Regions from separate parts of the Homo sapiens genome. Here region 1 is linked to region 2. The links come from fine-mapping of genetic effects on gene expression. A gene starts in region 2. The other region holds a variant in brackets. All regions are shown on one strand. Distances are from middle to middle. Region 1 overlaps SMARCA2 (SWI/SNF related BAF chromatin remodeling complex subunit ATPase 2). Region 2 holds the start of SMARCA2 (SWI/SNF related BAF chromatin remodeling complex subunit ATPase 2).

The links.
Region 1: its variant is fine-mapped to the expression of SMARCA2 in esophagus mucosa (GTEx, PIP above 0.99).

What each region holds. Positions count from the first base shown.
Region 1 is chr9:2,060,339-2,068,672 of GRCh38, reverse strand. It overlaps SMARCA2 (SWI/SNF related BAF chromatin remodeling complex subunit ATPase 2), which reads right to left. Exons shown (of 34, transcript NM_003070.5): 9 at 7,687-7,857. Among named protein-coding and RNA genes, the nearest start is that of SMARCA2, 49 kb to the right of the region's middle. The variant G/A (reference allele first, on the strand shown) is at 4,166.
Region 2 is chr9:2,012,053-2,020,386 of GRCh38, reverse strand. SMARCA2 (SWI/SNF related BAF chromatin remodeling complex subunit ATPase 2) reads right to left here and starts at 5,040. Exons shown (of 34, transcript NM_003070.5): 1 at 4,983-5,040. RefSeq lists enhancers at 816-1,414, 4,038-4,594, 5,381-5,430, 5,491-5,540, 7,751-7,880 and silencers at 2,931-3,120, 3,271-3,380, 3,681-3,850, 4,991-5,330.

The DNA.
Region 1 (8,334 bases), 48 kb before region 2:
TTGGGCTCTTTAGTTAATTAAAAATAAAAAATGACGATACAGAATCAATATGAACTCAACTTTGTTTACTTAAGATATTGATTATATAATACGTTTTGCCTTCTATGAAAATAACTCAACTGTCTTTTGACAAAATAGCTTTTACGAAAACACTTAAAGTTTAAAATCAGCCTTTTAGTCATAGTGAAGAAAGGCAGTTCCATCAACATTTGAAATTTCTGAAGTTCCTTTACAATGCAATTTTTACCAAAAATACATGTATGTATGTATGCCAAAGCACAAGGCATAAAAAAAAATGCAGCTTCCACCAAACAGTAGGAAATAAAATGCTCCCTTTGGTTATGATTTTCCAAGTAATTAAATTTCTATTTATGTCACCTCAGAGCAAAAACATTTATAAGCTCAAAAGAAATGATCAGCTTCAAAGAGCATCAGGCTCTACATCTAAGCTAGTGACACAGAGAACAATAACAGAACCCTTGAATTCAAAAAAGAAACCATCCCTGCTACCAGTCACTGAAGGTTCCATTTTTGGAGTTCTCAGAATCTATACTCAGGGGACTGTTTTAATTAATGGGGGAAAGTCAATTAATCCCACCATTCTTTCCATACAAATCAGAAATAAGCTACAAATTTGGCCAACAAAGAAAATCAAATGAGACAATGAATAAGCCAATTTCAAATATCTAGCAAGTGGAATTGGATCACCACTTCAATGAATAGTACATTAAAAAGCTTGAAGCATCATATATTAATATAATCAAAACTATTCTGAAGGATACTTTCCTATGAATGTCCTATAGACTAGCTAGATTGTTATCTAAAAACTGCCTCACAGTCAGGCCCTTCCATTACTTAAAATCCCCAAAACTATTTTTTAAAGTTCTATTAGGTATCAAATCTGAGAGACAGAGTAATATTAGATTTAAGACATTTGGTTCTGCAATTAGACAAACTGTGTTTCAATCTTAGCTCTCTGTAATTAAGTGCAAGAGATCTTAGCTGTATGATCTTGAGCAAATCATTTTCTCTTGTGTCTTAGTTCCCTCTTGCATAAAATAGGAACGGTAACAAACAGTGCCTGCTTCCTAGGGCTTCTGCAGGACTGGGTCACTATTTCGACATGTACAATCCAGTGTCACAAGTAATATATATGCTGCCAGCCTCAATCTCCACATTGTACAAGGGTCAACGATAGTCCGAGGACTATTCTTTTATGTCTATAATTAAGACTGGCTGTCGCATTTCCTGAAAACTGCTTCATAAGGCTATGAGGTCAGGGATTTCTGTCTGTTTTGTTCACTGGTGCATTCCCACACCTACAAGGGCATCAGGCACTTAAAAGGCGCTAAATAAATATTTGGTGATTGAAGGAATGAATGAAAGCACAAAGAACAATGCTTTCCACTTAGCATATGCTCATTAAATTATTACTATCATAAATAGATGCCAATACATTTGCAAGTCATAAAATAGTTAAAAGCACGCACACAATTAGCCATTGAATTGGTGCTCTGTGTGACTTTCCTCGCAAGCATGCCCTGTCCTTGGACCTAATTCTGCCATGTTATTCTAAGAGATAGAGGCCAGGTGGCAGTCTACTCTATGACAAGAGATATCAACTCCTCCCATCATTCTTTGGATTCCTTCAGTTTGATGACATTGCTGGTTGGTGCGCACATGTACTCACATCAACTTCATGCTGTGTCTCAAAACTTAAAAAAACAAAGCAAAACAAACACAACTGTCCCTTTTTCTTGGTTCAAAATTAACACCCAAGAGTTTGTGATTGGTCTACTGTTTGAGCTGACTTCGGACAGTCTCTAAGCACCTAAAGAAATGTCCTGGTGTGAATGCAGCAGCTGCTACAGCGTCTCCTGCCACCTGAGAAATTTTCATATGTAGTTATCTGCATCGTTTAATTGCAGACACATGCTATCAATATTAAGGGCTGATGCCTGCACTTATTTCCATTGATTGAAAACAAAACAAAACACTGAACAAGAAACTTTGTACTGGCTTCTTCCTACATGCAAAAGAGTTTAGAACTAATTATGCTTATGTAGGAAGGGAGGAGTATAATTAACCTAATCATGTAAGGGGACATGATAGGAATTATTCATAACTAAAGATTACTCATAACTAAAAATTACTCAAACTAAAGACAGTGTGTGTTCCCAATTTCCAAGGCCAACGTCAATTCATATCTTCCATTTAGCAATGTTCACAAGCAAAGGTATGTGCATGGCTACCCATCTTCCTTGCAGAAGGTATAAAAAGTAATCAACAACAGGGCTGAGGAGGGAAAGAAATCTCTAAATATGAAAATCCCGTGTAAGCTGAACTCAAAAGAAGACTTCAGTAGGCCATTTTATTTAGATTACTTTAACATAGGCTATAAACAGCCTCATTACATAAAGTTTTAAATCAAATATTTTACAATCTATATTATAAACTGAATGTACTTTATCCCCCAGTGGGTGTTATTATAATATACTGAAACAACATTCAAATGTGCTGGTATCTGAAGTATCCATTCTGTTTTGCTGGAAACCTAAGCTTTCAAAAACCACTTGAGTTATTTTTACTGTCATTTAAGGGGACCTTTGAGCATTAAGATAGGTAATCGGGTAATTTTAAAAAATGCCCAGGGATATGAAATTAGCAGGCATTTGCAAATTACTTGGGTTGTTTCTTATAGAGAAAATCAATTCAAACATTTTGACTCAAGTAACTGGTCAATCCAGTTAAACAGGACTTTTCTCGAAACTTCTGGTCTCCCCCATTTTGACACTCAACTAATCAAATAAATCTAATCACTGTGGCATTGTGTTCGCCTATCCTTACAATAGTTCCTACACTCAAATGTCCAGAATTACATTAGAACCTTTCTTTCATCTATGAAAATCCTGTAGAGGAAAGCTGTAATAAAGTATATAATCTTTGGGGAAACTGTAAGAGATTAAAAAAAATGAGAAGAATCAGGGAGTAGCTTGTATTTAAAATAAATGTCTCAATATTACTGCTTTGCTTTTCAAGCTCTTTTTACTGAAAACTGTGCCAACGGCAGGCTATTCTGACATTCTGGTATCTAAACAGGATAAAAACACATTTCCTACCACTATGTTGGCCAATACATTATGCCAGGAAGGTTCAACCTGCAAAATATCACAGTCCTGAGATTTACTTATAATAGCGGTTGGTAAGGAGAAAGAGAGAGAGAGAGAGACAGGATAAAAGAACTTTCAGAAAGAAAATCGAACACTCCAATGAAGACTATATCTGGTCTAGTGTTGCCTCAGAGATTCTGAGTATGTGCCCATTAGTATCATATGTTTCCAAAAAATGTCACAAATAAATAACACAAGAATAGTTCTGCTGGTATACATCCCACTGAAAGATGTGGAAGGGAGAATTAAATATTTAGTTTTGGCTGATGTCAACGGCTCTGGAAACTGAACCTCTGAAATGGCTAGACTTTTTTTTTTGAGACAGAGTCTCGCTCTGTCGCCCAGGCTGGAGTGCAGTGGCGCCGTCTCGGCTCACTGCAACCTCTGCCTCCTGGGTTCACACCATTCTCTCACCTCAGCCTCCTGAGTAGCTGGGACTACAGGTGCCTGCCACCACGCCCGGCTAATTTTTTGTATTTTTTAGTAGAGATGGGGTTTCAACATGTTAGCCAGGATGGTCTCGATCTCCTGACTTCGTGATCCGCCCGCCTCGGCCTCCCAAAGTGCTGGGATTACAGGCGTGAGCCGCCGCACCCAGCTGATGGCTAAACTTTTAAGCAATAGGCAGGGCTGCTCCTGGTATGGGCTCCTAACCACAGCTTAAGGAAAAATGTACCCTAAAGTACTGTGAGAGATGCCTCATAATCGCCAGGAACCCTAGTAAAGTAGAGGCCATGTAATTAGAAAATTCTCTTTGTAGGAGTTGGGGGAACAGGGTGGTAGGCAGAGTTTATCACCTGTGATAAAGCCTCATTTTTCTTCTGCATGCCTCAGTATTTAAAGAATCTGTCACTGTCCTCAAAGATATCCTACACACTAATATTCAACTGATTTCCAACTAGAAAAAAAGTGGTGACCAATTATTATTGATTCAACATCACAAAGAATATGCAGTAAAGGTTTAAAAAGACATTTGTTTTCAGAAAAACATAACC[G/A]TATTATAATTATGATTCCACTTTCGTATCATAGAATTGCTTGATGAAATAATGTTTACTGAGCACTTACTATATGTTAGGGTGTATTCTACATGCTTTAGATAAACTTTCCCGTGTAATCCTCACTACAAATCTATGGGGTAGACAACATTCCTATTGCCTTCTTACAGATCATGAGACTGAAGCACTATGGTAATAGATCTTTTAACGAACTAGCCTACAAGAGAATAATAGCAAATTAGTATAAATATTTTCTCATGTAGTTTTGATTTTAAAAGATTACCTGCTAACACGACTCAGACAGTGGTCCAATTTTCTAATTCAGCCATGTTCAATCCTAGTTCTACAGGCCCTGGTGGCTTGATCTAGCCCCATTCTCTTTTGTACCCTGTAGGAAACCTCAAGGTCACGCTAAACGCACATAATAGCACATTCATCTTGTAACATCAAAGAAATTAGTTTCGTATAACTAGGTTTTCAATACTTTAAAAATTATTCCTCCTCTGACACTTAAGGAGATACATGTAGTTCACTTCTTCTTCTTCCATTTCAAGGGCTTTAATGGAAGACCAGGCTGAAAATGAGAAGTTACAAAATGATTTATAAATGTGTACTTCCTAAAAATGTCTGTAATGATGAGAAAATTAAACAAGGTCATAACATGTTAAAGGAAACCTACCCTATTATTCACGAGCAACAAGTCAACACAATAAACTCCCAAAGAAAGACAGAGGCCTCTGTCCTTCTAGGGAATTAAAAAAAAAAAATTGTACACTAGTTTAACGCTGAAAATAAAAGGTAATCTTTTTCAGATTAAATTAAGTGAAAAAGTCAACCATATTCATCTTTAATAGCACATTTCTTAGAGTAATCAGTAGCTTAGTTGTCCTTCAAGTGTTGCTACCAGCTCAGTGCTATTAACTACTAGCTCACTGAGTAAAGTAGGTTTTCTCAAAACAAAGGTTTATTGAAGTATTTGTTAATTTAAAAAATATTGATAGGTACAGCATAATACTTAATACTATGGAAAAGTGCTAAAAAGGATAGCAGAGATTTTTATGCTCATAGACACAGAAGTTTTCCTCCACTACAGAGAAGCTAGAAGAAGCAACTCCCAATCATTCACTGCAATGGAGGGAAGAAGAACTACAGATAATCCAAAGTGTCAAATCAGCTTCTTAAAGCATCCCCTTCCTTTGCACTTGAATAAAAGTGCATCTGGAACTGGATAATTCGCTCTGAACTAAGTCTTAAAGCCCCGCAAAAGAGACAGGTACCAGGAAGGGCTAAGGGCCTCAGTTTCTTTTCTTTTTTTCTTCCCCCTTCTTTGTCCCACTTCTCCCAGTAAGATACCCTGGAAGGAAATAGAGCCCCTCCGACTTAGTCCTGCTGAGGGCACAAATGCTAGGCACCCAAGAGCATGCAAGGAAGGGTAGATGGCTGACCATAAAGTAAAAATTCTGCACATTGATCATGTGAGATAATCAATGGGAGATACTCAAAGATATCTGTAAGGTAGACAGTAGCTGCTTTGACAACTATTACGCGTTTGCCAAGAAATCAGGCCCCACCTCCAACTGGAAACAGTTTCCCTCCACAACATTCATCCCAGCTTGTCATTGTATAGTTGGGTGCATGTTGGATTAATATCTGTCTAGCCTCTCTTTCTCTCCCTGATTAATATCAGTCTAGCCTCTCTTTTTCTCTCTCTGATTAAACTGTGAGAGAAGGCAGGATGCTTTTCCTCACCATTGTACCCCTCCTTCTCCCAGCATTCTAGCACACGACCTAGCTCATAGTAAGTGTTCAGTTAACACATGTTGAGTGCAAGCATAAGACACAAAGAATAAGTGCTATTACCAAATTGAAGGCAAGGGTTTGAAAGGGGCGTGCCAACTTACAGATCATGCAGAATAACACCATGAAAAACAATTGTGACAAGTCCCTGTTCTGTACAGATGAACACAAAAATATAGGCATAATCATCAACACTCAATTGTGTATCTTTCTCTGCCTACGACGATGCAACTATCTAACACCACGGCAGAAATCTATTAATTGTAAGCCATAATCTCAAAACTGGGTCATTAGCTTTTAATCACAAAGAAATGTAAAATACAAAAATTTTAATACTAAAAACACTAACAGTGACAACCTCTGCAGAACACATGGCTGAATTAGGAAAAACTAAAACTGCCATTTAATGGGGTCCACTTACAGAATATTCCAGAATTCCATCTCTCTCTCTGCTATCAATATGTCAGTAATTCCTTTTTAATTTTTAAAAATTTTTTCTGGAAGTCATTAGACATATAAAATGTACCACCTTTACCATTCTTAAGTCTACAGTTCAGTGGTAATAACTACATTTATATGATTTATTTCCCCATCATTCTTCCCTCCCCCCTTACGTATATGTTCCTCACTAACTCTGAAAACATCTTTTTAAGGTAGGAATTGGAGCTGGAGTTTTGCACAGTCTATAATGCTACACTGACAAGAAAATGAGGTATTCCTCACCAACAAAATGTCTAAACACAAGCCCTGAGTCATCTCTCGTTCATCTTCACAATGAGGTAAGCTATCTTATACTAAAGAAATCAGTGCAAGAAGGTGCCTTCTTAATCATTTATTCCTCCTCCTTAATTATGAGACAGGTATGAGGATTCAGGAGCCATGAAATTAATTGTTTTTTGAAAAGCATTTTGTTCACTTATTCAGTATACAGAATGAATGATTAAATGCTACCAATCCTCAACCTTTACAATTCTGACTTCCAGTTGATGTTTGTACCTGGCCTAAACAGAATTTATCATGAACACACAGTATCAACCACTAACTAGACGACTGGATGACTTAAGCTTCAAAGAGGATCATATTCACAGGCCTATCCTCAGCAGGTTACTCTTGAATTGAGATATAATAGCTGCAGAGATTCTAAATCTTACCCTTCATTTCTCATGATAATTAGGAGATATTTCACATAGGACTCTTTTTTTATGTAATTACCTAAAACCCCAATGTGCACACTCACCTCACTGCGACACAGGGACAGCAGAACTGAATGAACAGCTTTGGCACTGCCATCTGTCCAAGTAACTATTGCTTATATCTTCCTCTGGCTTCTTCCAACCTGTACACTGCATTTTCTTCTTAAATTTCATTCTTAATTGAGTAATCCCCTGCCACCCTAGCATTAAACTTAAGCGAACACTTATTTGTGTCTGTTTTTCCTTTCCCAATTGACTGTATGTACTTAATTTAAAATCTTCTATTAAACAATGATTTATGAACAACATTGTTTTAGTTTAGTATATCCCATTATTATGCCCTTACCTCCAATAGTTGTCTAGTGTACCTAATCAACACTTCCATGCCATACCCATTTATGCAATTTTCACAATTCAATCATCTAAACCTTCCACCAGTGTAAGAAGTAGTACTTAAAGAGCAATACTCGCCTTAAAAACTTATCCCTGCCCATACACCCTGGACTCAGCCACCACCACTAGGATACGCACCTTCTTCCTCCTCCTCCTCTTCTTCTTCTCTTTGGCTGCCTGGGCTTGCTTGTGCTCCCAAACCAGATTGGTCAGATTGGCTACATACTCATCGGTCTGCTGCAAAAGGTAAGCTAAACGCCTGTCTTTCTTTTGATCAATCAGTTTTCTATAACCCTCCTCATCTTCAGCCTATTAAGGAAAGAAGAGCAGGATGAGAGCATAATATAAGCGTGCAGACAACTCCACTCTCCACTCTGTCCTCCCCTTGACAGTCTGCATTTTGACTGGTAGGAGTGTAGCAAACTGGATGAGTTGGGCTGTTCAAGCCATTGCACAGAGTCTGAAGTGGGACAAACACACAGAAGTGTGACGCCTACATCCCAGGACACTGGAGTTTACAGCAAAGTCCGGGCACAAAGCCACACTGTACGTGTGGTGTGATTAAGCACTCTGAGCCAAGCTCTTTGTTTTCTGTGTTGCTTTAACTGTACAAAAAGATTTTAGAATTTGACAATTCATGATCTAAACTTTATCTTTAACTCTATATTTTAGACATTTTCAAATATAATCAAAAGCAGAGAGAATAGTTTAATTTCTCCTATAACCAACCCCAAACAACAAAAATTCACTTGTGATGACTCCTGTTTCATTGCTACTCTTCTTCTA
Region 2 (8,334 bases):
CCATGGCTTTATTAACCGGCTAAAGGTTAGAGTCCCCTAATAAGAACGCTTCCAAAAATGACAGAAAATTCACATCCTCTATTGGCCAAAGACATCTCCAAAACACAATATTTAAGGGGGAAAAAAAAACAATTTAGAAGATAATTCTTTTACATTAAAAAGGAGAAATCAGAAATAGCCCCTAAATGTGGCTTTCATACTAGGGAAATTTTCTCATCTGTTCACAAGAAATACAGCAGAAAAGAAATGTAACTCATATAGTTTTCTAAGGTAACTCAAGTTAACCAAAGAATTTGTCCCTATCGTCCCTTAAATCATCTTGACCAGAAACAGAATCAAATCTTAAAGTGGTTAAATCAGGTCCTACCAACACTCCTTCCACTTGCAAATGCTGGGAAACAGTCCTTAGTATTACATATGTGATAATTCAGTTGTCCTCATGGCACCATGTCAAGATGTCATAAATAGTGATTTATTATTTCTCTGGGGTATCAAAAAGCTGCTGACCTAGAAGAGTTTGACAAAGGCCTTGTTTACAAAGGAAGATTTCTAAAGGAGAAAAAAAAAAAACAAGAAAACACTGGAGGACAGCACCACTTTTATAATTTATAAAACTCTTCTTTTTATGCTCTTGCTGTAATACATAATAATAAATGTCAAAATATTACAACAATATAAGGAGCATCACAATTACCTTTTAGAAAAGGATGTGATATGCTTTTATACTGGCCTGTAGAATGATTTATCTTAAACTTAATAAAAGAAAAAAATTTTAAATACTTATCTGCACAAGTGTCACTTTCTAGTTATACCATGTCAGGAATACTTTAAATAGAATTCAAGCATTAACAATATAATACAAGCCGAGGCACTTTTTTTTTTTTTTTTTTGTCAATTCTAAGCCTCAGGTGTTGGTCAAAGCACTTTTCAAGAAACTTGACGAGAAATGCTCAAAAACCACTTTACAAACGAACAAAAGAAAAGATCTAAGGCTGCTTTGAACATGCTCTTGTGGTGAATATTTTCTGTGAAACACCACAGTGCACCTAGTCCTGATGCTGGGCTGTTACTGATATAAGTCATAAGAGAAAGGCTGCATTGAAGGAAGCCCTCCCTCCCCTCACCCTCTTCAAGGGTTCTGATACCCCACATTCCTCATTCATTTGAAATGTTCTTTACAAAAATGGCATCTCTCTGATGCCCCCAAGGTAGACGGACCTCTGATCTACTGGGTTGTTTTTTTTTTTCCCCTCAGTCTACCGCAATAAGTATCTTTTGGACCTAACAGGTGTCTCTAAATCCCCTCTTTACAATAGCAAACATTTGCATTGTAAAGAAGCATTTGAGGAAAAAAAGAAAGAAAGTCCAAGAGAATAAAAGAGCAATTAGATTCCTCAAAGAAAAAGTGTGTCTCATTTTGCATAACAATGCAGCAACTAGGATTCAAATCTGCCACGCCTCTTAACACTTCACCAGTGTGCTAGAGGTAGCCTGGAAGCCTAAAACTCCAATGCTGGCCAACAAGCTTCTGGTTGTGGCCCCCCTGATAACAGATGGAAAATACTACTGAAAATATTTGAATGTGAATATGTAAGTATACACACACATAACATTGGGTATGGCTTTTTAAATTATTATTAGGGTTCTCAATGGTTTCTGAGTCTTTGGTGGTTGGATAGAAATTTTCTGCTACTCAACGCCCAAGCAACAATCTCATTATTTATGCAAGCATTCTGTTCAGACAAGCAAGGCACACAACCAGGTGTAAATTTTAAGTCCTTTGAAATGGAAGTTTGAAATTCGATATTGGTAACGCAGAAATGTTAAAAATAACCGCTCAGTGCAGTCAACAAACTGTGTATCCTTAATGTCTTCCTTGAGCTCTAACAGTACACATACAAAGTCATACATGCCTACATAATGACCAGAAAGGAGACAATGATGACACCTCTCCAAAAGATTACTAGCCCAGGTCGCTTTGCTTTTTCCAAAGCACCAACCTCCATCAGGTTAGGGAGGAGGAAAAAAAAGAGACAACCTTGCAAAACTCACCCAAAAGTTATATAAACAAAGGAGGGGAGAAGCCCAGTCTAGGCTTTGCACCCATGTGCCACTAAAATTACATAACACCCGGTGCAGACATTGAATAAGGAATGGATTCTGCACAACACCCCCACTCCCTCGATTCCCAAGCCTTCCTCATTCCCTTAAAAAATCCAAACGCCTAGCAAGAGCTAGTGGACGACTTTGAATATTTATTTTATTGCTGGAGTAAAACCTGCGAGAGTTGGAGGTACGTTTAGGCCCGAAGTTTGAATGTGCAACAGCCCCGGGCGCAGCGACTCACACTCTCCGGACCCGGAGGAGAAAGAACTGACAAGCAACAGCGGCCAGCAAGGCCTTCTTCCCCCTCATGGTGCCTCCCGCTGGAAAGTTTTCCACGCAATCGATCGGAGGACAAGGAGCCCATTTCCCCCGCCTGCCTGACTTTGCAGGAAAGGCGAGCCGGGAGACCGGAGGGGGCTGGCAGGGAAAGAACTGGAAAGCTCCGCACACAGCCGGCGGCAGGGCTGCGCAGGCTCCTTACCTGGAGGACGCGGAACAAAAAGGGGCGCGGGGTTCGCGGAGCTTGGGGTGGCGGCGCGGCCGGCGGACGGGAACCGGTCTCCGAGCCGCGGCTCTAGGCCCGCGCCACAGCCCGCGGCCCGGCCCCCGCCGCTGCCGCTTCCTCCCTCGCGCGCGTCATGTCACGGCAATCAAACATGTCTGTGTGCTGTGTGCGCTTCGCTGCTGTGACTTCCTGATTCTCCGCCGCTCGCGCGCGCACACACACACACTCACAACCACACGCACACGCCACCCCCACCAGCCCTCGCCACCAAACCTCGCCTTGTCCTCCCCGGGCTCCAGGGGAGGGTGCGGGCAGGAGCAGCTGCCCGAGCCGCTGCTCCCGACGCACTGGCTCCTGCGCGCACAACACACACTCACACTCACACTCACGCGCAGACACACTCGCGCCGGCCGGGAGGGCGCGGAGGCTGGAGCCGCGGGAGCTCGCAGCCCCCTCCCACCCCTCCACCCTACTTAGCCGCCCTGCCAAACTTTTTTTTTCCTGCCTGATCCACGTCCAACTTCCCTCCACCCCACCCCCCAAGCAGCCCAGCCAGCCCCGCGCTCACCACCATCCGCAGCAAACGGCAACCCGGATAAAAATAATAATGCAATCCAGGCGGCAGAGGCGGAGGCGGAGGCGAGCGATCAGACACTGGCAGGAGGCGATTTCCCCGCGTGTACCGGAAACCGGCCCAAGTGCCCCGGCCAAGGCGCGGGTGTCCGCCGGAGCCCGCACTGCCGCGCCCCGCCCTCCGCCGTGTAACTGCACCCAGGCTGCGAGGCCTGGTGCGGGGCACCGGGAGCACTGTGCTCCGTGTGCGCCCTGCGGCCGGAGGGCGCCGAGGGGCTGGCGCGCCGGACCGGTTATTTAGGGAAGTGCATCGCGACACCTTTGCAGATGGCATGGCCGTGTTTTGCAACGCAAACGGGAGGAAGGGAAGACGGCCGGGTGGAGGGGGAGAGCAAAGGAAGGGGTAAACCAGGTTGGGATGGGAATAAAGCAAACTCCTGAGCAGGGAGCGAGAAGGAAGGAGTGCGTGTCATCGTTGGGAGGAGGCTCCTACCCGGTCTCCCCGCCTCCCGCCCTCGCCACCCCCCTATTCCCTCCCCACCGCAGCCCTTCCCCTTCCCGGGCGAACCACACCGCCGCTGCCCGGTGGTGCGCGGGTCCTGTTTGTGACAGTCAGGCAGACAGGATTATCCGGATCATGGCCTCCCGGGCCCGCAGCCGCCGCCGTGGCTCTCCTGGGTCCCGGCGCGCCCCTAGCACCCGGACGATCGCAGGCGCCCCACGCCCGCAGCTCCCGCGGCGCAAGCAAGGGGAAGACGCGAAGCAAAAGAACACGGACCCGGGGAGAGGGAGGGCAGGGTAACGGAGGCTGGCGGGCACCTCCGACCTCCTTGGGGGCCTCCTCCCTTCCCTCCAGCAGTGCGGCCCGGGCCGGACATCCCGAACTTTAACACCCGAGCCTGCGCTGCCGCCAGGTACCAGAGGCAGGGACGTCCGCAGCGCCCGGGGCGCAGCCCCCTGGCAGCCCCTTTGCCTAAAGGCCTGCCTACCAATCAGCCTCCCCATCCACGCCGGAGGAAACGCGGAAAGTGGAGGTGACACCTCCGATCAGGCACGCACCGGCCCCGCGGCAGTGGCCGCTACCTCCTTCGCGCGTCAGCTCAGGCTTCTCCCGCTGCGATCCGCTCACGTCTCCGCAGCCGGAGCCCTTTGAACAAGTCCCTGGGAAGCGGGTGGCAACAGCGTCCGTTGGCGCCCCGCCGCCAGCCTGGGCTCCCCGCCCTCCTTTCCCGTTCCCCTTCCAACTCTTCCGGGGAGGGTTGCCCGGGATGAACAGTAGCGTTTCCATCCTCCTCCCCTGTCCCCCAGGCCTTCCCCCTCCTGCGGCCACCCCCCTCCCCGCCGCCTCACTTTTAAGGGGATGGGGGGATTGCAACCTGGCCCAATGTGTGTGTTGCAACCTTGAGTTGGCAGCGCCTCTGACTGCCCACTCAGGATCAAGGCTGTGGCTTGTTGGGATTTTTTTCCTCCTTTGCCCCCTTGAAGTAGTAATTATTACTGTTATTATTAGAACAGCAAGGTTCGGTTGAAACTTTCTCGTTTCTTCCACCGCCGCCTGGGAGCTGTCGTTAGAGCATTCCACCTGAGGCCCGCGGGGAGGAGGCGGGCTTTTTTTTGTCGCGGCGGTTGGCCCGCCTGTTTGTTTTGGTCTCCTTGCATGCACAATAAATAATAATTAGGATAATAATGGATAATCCCGGGCGAAGGCGGCGTGGTGCCGGAGGGGTCTGAGCGGCGGCTGCAGCGGGGCGGCCGAAGGGAGGGGAAAGAGGAGAAAAGAGTTGTAAGTTATATTTACCTTGCTCGCGAGGAGTGTGCTGGCTGAATCTCTTCCCTCTCTGAGTCACCCAGAGTACAGAAACAGAGGGAGAGAGGACTAGATTATGAATATGACTTCATTGATGACAGCCGTCCCCTCCTCTTCCTAAACTCGGGCTCCGCCCAGCGTCCCACCCTCGCCTCCTCCGCGGGCGCCGGAAGACGCGCCGCAGTTGGCCCCGCGCGCCGCTCCTCCCTGCCCGTCCGGGCGCGGGTTGGCGGGACGCGCCTGTCACTCGCTCAGCTCAGCGACTCCGGGAGCGCGGGGGGAGGAGGGGGCGGTGTGCAAGAATGTGGATCTAGACAGCTCTACTGTATGCGTGGATCCGTGTGTGACTGCAAGGCGCCGGCTCTCGGGCCGCGTTTGTGCCTGGAGCAGAGAAACTGCGCGGGATGCAGAAAGCCCCAAGCCCTGCTGGAGCTGGGCGCCCGCTGTCCCTTCCCTGGCAGTCCTCTTCCTCGGGCGCCGCGGGGCTCCTCCAGGGAGACTGCGGAAGGGGAGGAGGCGAAGCGAAAACGGAGGGCAGCCGTAGTAATAGCGCGTAGTAGTTCGGGGGTATGTGGAGAAGGTGCTGGAATTTAACTGTGCCTCCGCCTGCCAGTGCGAGCCTGCAGAGAGAGAGGGAGGGGACGGGGGACGGGCTCCGAGTGGCACCAAAGCTGTTTGTGGCACAGTGTGGACTGTGGAAAAAACGGGCATTGTCGTGCCGGCTGAAACTTTTTCTCCCCCTTCCCTAAGGCTGTCATTATAAATCTGCCCCCTATTCCAGGTAAAAAAATAAAAAATAGAAAAGGGAGGCGGGCACAAAGAACGTTCCTGCCAAATCTGTCTCTTCCCTGAAGGACTGCAAGCTTCCAAATGCCAACGAGGGAGAAACAGCTGAGAGGCTGAACGCCTTATAAATAAGTAAACCCACCCTAACCTCTCTGTTTACTTCGTGGACTAGGTACAGCACTATAACCTTCCCTCACCTGCCATCTTCGCTAAAATATATACAAAAATATGGAAAAACAAACCCTGGGGGCGGGGCTGGCGGGTTAGGGGGCGGCTGAAGCATGGAATCTGGTTTTGATTTAAAAAGGGGAATAAATCTCTTATTTTCTACAGACCGTAGTCTCTTCCCTCTCACCCCGCATTTGAGACCAATTAAGGCTGCAAATTGTAATTTGCTGGCAAGTCGCGGTTTTGAGACCTCTTTGCTCCAATTTTCCTTGAAATACAGTACTTTGGCCGGACCAATAGGTCGGTGTTTGGTGAGACAATTTTATTTTTAGTTTTATGAAGTGTGAAAGAATGTTAGGAGACTTTAAATCAGGGGCCTATTATTTTAGACTCAGATTAATGTAGATGCTTGACTCTTAAAACTGTTCCTATGCAGTAGTGTTATGAAAAGTATGATTTATCCCTTATTTCGTAATGTAATGGCTTAAATTAGTCATTCAAAGTGCACTGTGACTATCTGGTTGAGGATTCTTCCCCCTAGAGTAAAATCCTATTTTAAGACCATTTTACTGTTGCAAAATTGACTCCATTTGAGCAACTGGGTCTGAAATGCAGTTCTAGGATGCTTAAAACTTCAGGCTGGATAAGTTGAAGACAAGAAGTAATGGAAAGAACGCCAAATACTGCCATGTAGTCATTAAGAAGCAAGAATTCTTTATATCACTGGTCCACTGCTGGCTGAAGCAGAGCCCACTAGGGCAGCATTTTCATGATGGCTGGGAGTGTTGGTGATCACCCACCCTATAGCTTTCTAAGGTCTTGCTACTTGCTTGTTAACTTTAGCTTCATCATTTTCTGTCTATCTTGAAGTGAACCTCAAGACAACGAAAGATAACACAGCTAAGAGAAATAGAATATAGTGTGCCCTGAAGGATCCATTGTAAGAACTTGTTTTTCTGCCTGAGGATATGCCGGTATAACTATTAACTGAGAAATATATAGGGAGAAATTTTAAACAAGACTAGTAGTATAGTAAAAGTGTAACATAAATACTAACTTCTAACTGCCTAATAAGTCGCAACTAATAATATAGCCAGATAACCTACCTGTCTCTAATAAAGAGATTTAACCTAATAGCAATGCTTATTACATTGAGAGTATTAGGTTTTAATTTTTTTGGGGTCTAATTTGTTTCTCTGGCATGCCGGCCTCACATGCCAATTTTCAGAAATTGATAACTTCACTTTTATTCCCTTGTGAATAAATGCCCTTTATCCCCTTAAGATTCTACTTCCACTTGCCATGCAAATCCTCAAAAAAACAAAAACAAAAACAAATCAATTAGTAAGTCCCTGGAGAAAGAAACTGTCCATTCCTTCTGGCATTTTGTCACAGGGAAAGTAAAGAAGAAAACATTCCCTTTGTTATATGTGTATATTCTTCAGCTCATATAAAATTTTGATGTTGTCCTTGGAGGCGTTGGTATCCACGCATTGTATACACACAGCTATGGGAATTAAAATACATCGTTGGGAACAGAGATTAAATATAGATATTGCATCTCCCTCTCCCTTCGCATTGGTCTAAGAAAGCACCACCTTCCCCCATCACCCTTCAAGTTGTTCCTCTAAAAATTCGTCTTGTTTGTAGTTTGTACCCTAGCAGTTACGAATTTTATAAAATAAGGCCTCAACACAGGAGAAATGAAAAGGCAGCGTCATTCACTTGGTACAAAAAGAAGATTGTAGAACATATAGCATGAGTTTCACCTCTGAGGTAAAACGAAATTTAACAATTGAAGTTAAGGAGGAAAATGATGGGTTTTTTTTGTTTTGTTTTGCAGAAAATCATACAAAAGCAAATGTGGTTGGAGGGTAAAAGGACTCCAGGAGGCTGCACAGGGTGCTACGTTCACACGCAGCTTTTCTTTTTGGACTTTGATGAGTCATAATGTGTTCTCTGAACTTGCTTTTCTCTTTCTAGTTTGGTATCAAAAGATAGAAGTCACTTTTTCATGTCTGTATGGCCACATTCACTTGTTATGTAAGTCTGCTTTGGTTACATTCTGTATAGAGTAGATACTGGGTTTAAAACTTGGTATCTGGATACAACACCCTCATAAAGAAAAATTCCATGCACAACGTTAGGAAGCTTCTAGTCCCAACAGACAAACTGTTAATGCTGCCTGAAATGTTGCCTAGCTTCAAACACGAGCAGGTAAGACCGTTTAGGCAGTGAGTATTTCATCTTCAGTAATGGAAACCAAGATTTGACAAATTGAATCAGCTGACATTTAATTTAAAGAATAGTTTAGAATTAACAAGTAAATTTATTACAGAAATAAACACTCCTCTCTCTCCTTTTTTCTTTTTTTCCTTTTTGAGTCAGA